Linked DNA regions of Homo sapiens. The protein of the gene in region 2 purifies or fractionates together with the protein of the main gene of each other region. This does not show direct contact. Each region holds a gene or a part of one and is shown on either strand. Other genes may lie near its edges.

Evidence for each region.
Region 1: the proteins of AVIL (region 2) and WDR62 purify together in Homo sapiens (affinity purification with mass spectrometry; one large-scale study listed by BioGRID and IntAct). This does not show direct contact.

The regions. Positions count from the first base shown.
Region 1 is NC_000019.10:36,061,397-36,064,896, reverse strand, and holds part of WDR62 (WD repeat-containing protein 62), read right to left. Parts: intron 1-3,500. UniProt on the Homo sapiens protein: Required for cerebral cortical development. Plays a role in neuronal proliferation and migration.
Region 2 is NC_000012.12:57,799,308-57,801,734, forward strand, and holds part of AVIL (advillin), read right to left. Parts: intron 1,906-2,427; coding exon 1,837-1,905; intron 614-1,836; coding exon 488-613; intron 1-487.

The DNA of each region.
Region 1 (3,500 bases), on a different chromosome or scaffold from region 2:
AGGAGAGAAGGAATGGGGGCCGGGTGCGGTGCCTCACGCCTGTAATCCCAGCACTTTGGGAGGCAGAGGGGTGGGTGGTTCACTTGAGGTCAGGAATTCGCGAACAGCCTGGCCAACACGACAAAACCCCACCTCTACTAAAAATACAAAAAATAGCCAGGTGTGGTGGCAGGAGCCTGTAATCCCGGCTACTCGGGAGGCTGAGGCAGGAGAATTGCTTGAACCCGGGAGGCAGAGGTTGCAGCAAGCCAAGATCGTGCTGCTGCACTCCAGCCTGGGCAACAGACCAAGACTCCGTCTAGAGAAAAAAAGAAGTGGGGCTGGGCGCGGTGGCTCACGCCTGTAATCCCAGCACTTTGGGAGGCTGAGGTGGGCAGATCACAAGGTCAGGAGATCGAGACCACCCTGGCTAACACGGTGAAACCCTGTCTATACTAAAAATACAAAAACAAAATTAGCCAGGCGTGGTGGTGGGCGCCTGTAGTCCCAGCTACTTGGGAGGCTGAGGCAGGAGAATGGTGTGAACCCAGGAGGCGGAGCTTGCAGTGAGCCAAGATCGCGCCACTGCACTCCAGCCTGGGCAACAGAGTGAGACTCTGTCTCAAAAAGAGAGACAGAAAAAAAAAATGTGGCGTTCAGAGACACAGCCCCTGGGCTGCCCACCTCTGGACTTATGACATGCAGGAAGAGCATGCTCTTGGGTTTTAAGCCATGCTGTGGAGGGGTTTCTGTTGCCCGTAGCCACCTCTAACCTGTCGCATGCCCTGACCTTGTGCCTGGCCCTCTGGCAAATGCTGTCTGGCCATCAGTGCACTGATTCCTCAAGCATGCTTCATGGAGTCAGGGCTCTCATGAACCAACTTGGCAGATGAGGTGACTGCAACACAAGGAAGTCCCCTGCCTGCAGTTACCTAACCAGACAGGGCAGAGCCCTGACCTCTAAGCCAGTAGTTCTCAGTCCTGGCTGTACATTAGATTTCCCTGGGGAGCATCTGAAAAGTGTCAAAGCCTAAGATTAGTTGAGTGAAAGTTTGGTGAGGAACAAGATAATATTTGCACTGTCTCAGGAAAGATGTCCCCAGGATACCTGCTAATCACAAAGGTGAAAAGAGAGGCTTTGAAGTGGAGGAATCTGGCAGGCAACACCTTGGCCAAGTGCTCCCAGTGAACACCACCAGTCATAGGAGACCTCCTGAGAGGAGGCACCAGGAAGAACACAGCACCCCTTCTGGTCTGTTCCTGCCAAAGATGCAGAACCTGAGTCTGCCCGTGAGGAGGCATTGGACAAACCCAAATGCTGGGACACTCTACAAAATACCTCGTCTACAATCCTCAGTGTCAAGATTGGCCGGGTGCAGTGGCTCAAGCCTGTAATCCCAGCACTTTGGGAGGCCGAGGCGGGTGGATCACGAGGTCAGGAGTTCGTGACCAGCCTGACCAACATAGTGAAACCCCGTCTCTACTAAAAAAAAATACAAAAATTAGCCAGGCACGGTGGCGCATGCCTGTAGTCCCAGCTACTCAGGAGGCTGAGGCAGAGAATCGCTTGAACCCAGGAGGTGGAGGCTGCAGCGAGCCAAGATCGCCCCACTGCACTCCAGCCCGGGCGACAGTGTGAGACTTCGTCTCAAAAAACAAAAAAACAAAAAAAAGTGGCCAGGTGCTGTGGCTCACGCCTGTAATCCCAGCACTTTGGGAGGCCAAGGCGGGCGGATCACAAGGTCAGGAGATCGAGACCATCCTGGCCAACATGGGGAAACCCCAGCTCTACTAAAAATACAAAAATTAGCCGGACATGGTGGCATATGCCTGTAATCCTAGCTACTCGGGAGGCTGAGGCAGGAGAATCACTTGAACTGGGGAGTCAGGTTGCAGTGAGCCAGGATCCCACCACTGCACTCCAGCCTGACGACAGAGACTCCATCTCAAAAAGAAAAAAAAAAATGTCAAGATCCTGAAAGTCAAGAAAAGACAGAGGAGCCACGTCAGCCTGAAAGAGACTGAGGGGACAACTCAATGCAATGTGTGATTCTAGACAGAATCCTTTGGCCATAAAGGACATTCATGGGACAAAGGCTGACTCCTGAATGGTGCCCTCTGGGGAGTGGATGAGAGTGATATATCAATTTTCATTTCCTGATTTTGCTGGATGTATTACAGTTTAAAAAGATTGTCATTTTTTTTTGTAGGAAATACACACTGAAGTATTTATTTGATTAAGTTTTTTTTTTTTTTTTTTTTTTTTTTGAGACGGACTCTTGCTCTGTCACCCAGGCTGGAGTGCAGTGGCATGATCTTGGCTCACTGCAACCTCTGCCTCCCGGGTTCAAGCGATTCTCCTGCCTCAGCCTCCCGAGTAGCTGGGATTACAGGCGCCTGCCACCAGGCCTGGCTAATTTTTGTATTTTTAGTAGAGACAGGGTTTTGCCATGTTCCCCAGGCTGGTCTCAAACTCCTGACCTCAAATGATCTTCCTGCCTCCAAGGCCTCCCACAGTGCTGAGATTACAGGCGTGAATCACCATGCCTGGCGTGAAGTATTTAGAGATATAGGGGCATCATGTCTACAACTGATTCTCAAATAGTTCAGAACAAATTAATATGTATATAGACAAAAAATGATAAAGCAAATGTGGTAAAATGCTAACATTTGGCCAAGTGCAGTGGCTCGCACCTGTAATCCTAGCACTTTGGGAGGCTGAGGCAGGCAGACTGTCTAAGCTCAGGAGTTCAAGACCACCTTGGGCAACATGATGAACCCCGTCTCCACTAAAACACAAAAAACTAGCTGGGCATGGTGGCACATGCCTGTGGTCCCAGCCACCTGGGGGGCTGAGGCATGAGAATCACCTGAACCCGGGAGGTGGAAGTTGCAGTGAGCTGAGACTGTGCCACTGCACTCCAGCAGCCTGGGTGACAGAGCAAGACTCTGTGTCCAAAAAAAAAAAAGAAAAAAAAGCTAACATTTGTGAAATATGTGAAAGGTACATAGGTATATAGGAGCTCTTTGTACTATTCTAAGTCTGAAATTATTTCAATATAAAAAGTCTCAAAATTGCCAATGCCCAAGTTTCATCCCAGATCAACTGATTTGGCTTTCTCTTGCGTGGCGGTGGGGGGGCGGTGAGGCACAGGGACCAGGTGATTCTGATATGCAGTTGGAGTGAAAATCCCCACACTGGCCACACCACCTCCTAATGCACACCCACTGGTGGCCAAGGGCGGACACCTGCATACCATCTACTATAGATCCAGGCCACCCACTCCACTGCCTACAGGGATTAGGGAGGCAACACAGGTGTGAGGAACTGGCCACAACGGGCCTGACAAATTTCACTAAGCTCAGCCCCTCACTGCCACAGGGGAATTTGGGCCCCAGAGGCCAGAGAATTTCTCACTTCTCCAAACAAAAGGGACATTTGGATTTTTGTGTTAAAAAACTTGAAATGTTGTCCACTTATCCAACCTTTAAAACATACTATATTGGGCAAGTGTGTGTGA
Region 2 (2,427 bases):
TGTACTGGCTGAAGGGTGGTGAGTGATGAGGGTATTGGTATATGAAATGAAATCAGAGAGCTAGGCAGGGGCCAGATTGTATAGGCCTTCACATTCTTTTTTTAAATGTAGTGGGAAGCTATTCCAGGTGTTTTAAACAGGGCCGTGCCATATATTTTAAAGATCTCTTTGGCTGTTGTGTGGGGAACGGATTGTAGGAACAGGTGGAAACCAGTTGGATTGTAGTAAGTAGTCCATGATAGCTGGACTAGACTAGTAGCAGAGAAATGGAAGAGGAGTGAACAGAAGCTAGCTGATAGACTGATGTAGGTGGAGAGAAAAGAATCAAGAAAGAACCCTGGTTTTTTTTGGTTTGAGTTCCTAGGTAGCTCAGATGTCCATTGAGCGGCTACAATGTGCCGGAGCTGTCCTAGGCCATTTGCTGAGCTGAGTTTTTTACTCACGGAGAGCTCCACTTCCAACAGACACAGTTCCTTCAGCCACTCACCTCCTTTTTGGCAGGGTTTACATCCTCAGGCAGCTCCTGATTCTGGTTTTTCAACAGAACTGCTATAGGGTAATATTTTGGCTCACTGTCATTAGAATTCAGGGAGAGGGTTGCATTCTTCATGTCCTAGGTAAGATAAGAATGTAGGCACAGGGAAAAGACTCCTCAGTGTCTGTGTGGTTACAGTTCTGAATGTGTATAATATTTAACATTTTGACTTATGCCACTTCACCCTCTGTAATCATCTTTGATAACAATGCTCCCCAAACCTGGCTGCATGTCAGAATCATCTGGGAATAGAAAATATTCAGATTTTGGGGTTGTTCTTGGGAAAGCTGATTCAGTAAGTCCAAGGCAAGTCCTGTATAGCTAGTTTGGCATACATCTTGTGTCTGGATCTCATTTGAATATTGGGATCACATACCTTCTCTTGGTACTTTTATTTAGCCCTGCATTTCCAGCCTTTAAATGACTTTAGGTTGTAGTCCTACTTAAATACAATTTAAAGATACTACATCAACATTAGCTTTGGAATCTGAGTTTGTAGAGCACAAAGGACAGAATTGCCAGATGGTTTGAACACCTGGTGCCATGCACTCCTCCTGAGGTTAAAGAACTGCTGGATTCCTGGCTAGAGGCTCCACTTCTTTTAACCATTAAAATAGGTGTAAATGGCCTAAGTTTCTGTGGACTTCACTGTCAGAAATGAATAAAAATGTCATTTGGGTTAGAAGCTTATTTCTGAAAAATACTGCCAATGACTTTAATCTCTCCTTAAACGGCAGAGTTGAATAATAAAACAAATATTCATTTTTTTGTTGTTGTGTTTTTGAGACGGACTCTCGCTCTGTTGCCCAGGCTGGAGTGCAGTGGTGCCATCTCAGCTCACAGCAACTTCCGCTTCCTGGGTTCAAGCAGTTCTCCTGTCTCAGCCTCCCGAGTAGCTGGGACTACAGGCGCATGCCACCACGGCCGGCTAATTTTCATATTTTTAGTAGAGACGGGGTTTCACCATATTAGTCAGGCTGGTCTCAAACTCCTGACCTTAGGTGATCCACCCGCCTTGGCCTCCCAAAGTGCTGGGATTACAGGCATGAGCCACCGCGCCCGGCCCCATTTTTGTTGTTTTTACACAGCAAGTCTGTTTGAAAATCTGGAAGTCAGGAAAATAAGGAACTTGGCTCTGAGACCTGCTTTTCTATTGATTACAAAAAGTCTTTACATCAAAACAGACAACTATGGTAATACTAAGGACATGAGTTTTGCCTGTGAGCATCTGTAGCATTTGTGTGTTCTCTGGCTCTGGTTGCCCATGTGGCTGGCTTCTCCCAAGAGCGAACCCGACTCACAGCAGTGATTCGCATGATAGCAGCAGCATCTCCCAGCTCTTCTTTTAATTGTTCATATGTTTTTCCTGCCTGAGAAGAAGAGAGAGAAAACACAGGATGAGGTCTTTCTTATAGGGGAGGGACATCTTAGGTCTGGTCTGTGTCTTCAGGAAAAGCAAAAGAGCCAGGGAGTCAGAAGACATTTCAAGGATAAGTAAAAATGAAAATCCCCCCTTTTGGGTCCATGCAGGCTTGAAAGGTGCTTAAACATAACGCACATTCTTTGATGGTAACCCCTCAGTCCTCCCAATAAGATTTAAGAAAGAGCAGTTGAAGGCCAGGCACAGTGGCTCATGCCTGTAATCCCAGCACTTTGGGAGGCTGAGGCGGGTGGATCACCTGAGGTCAGGGGTTCAAGACTAGCCTGACTAACATGGTGAAACCCCATCTCTACTAAAAATAGAAAAATTAGCTGGGCATGGTGGTGCATGCCTATAATCCCAGCTACTTGGGAGGCTGAGGCAGGAGAATTGCTTGAACCCAGGAGGTAGAGGTTGCAGTGAGCCGAGATTGTGCCATTACACTCCAGCCTGGACAACAAGAGCGAAATTC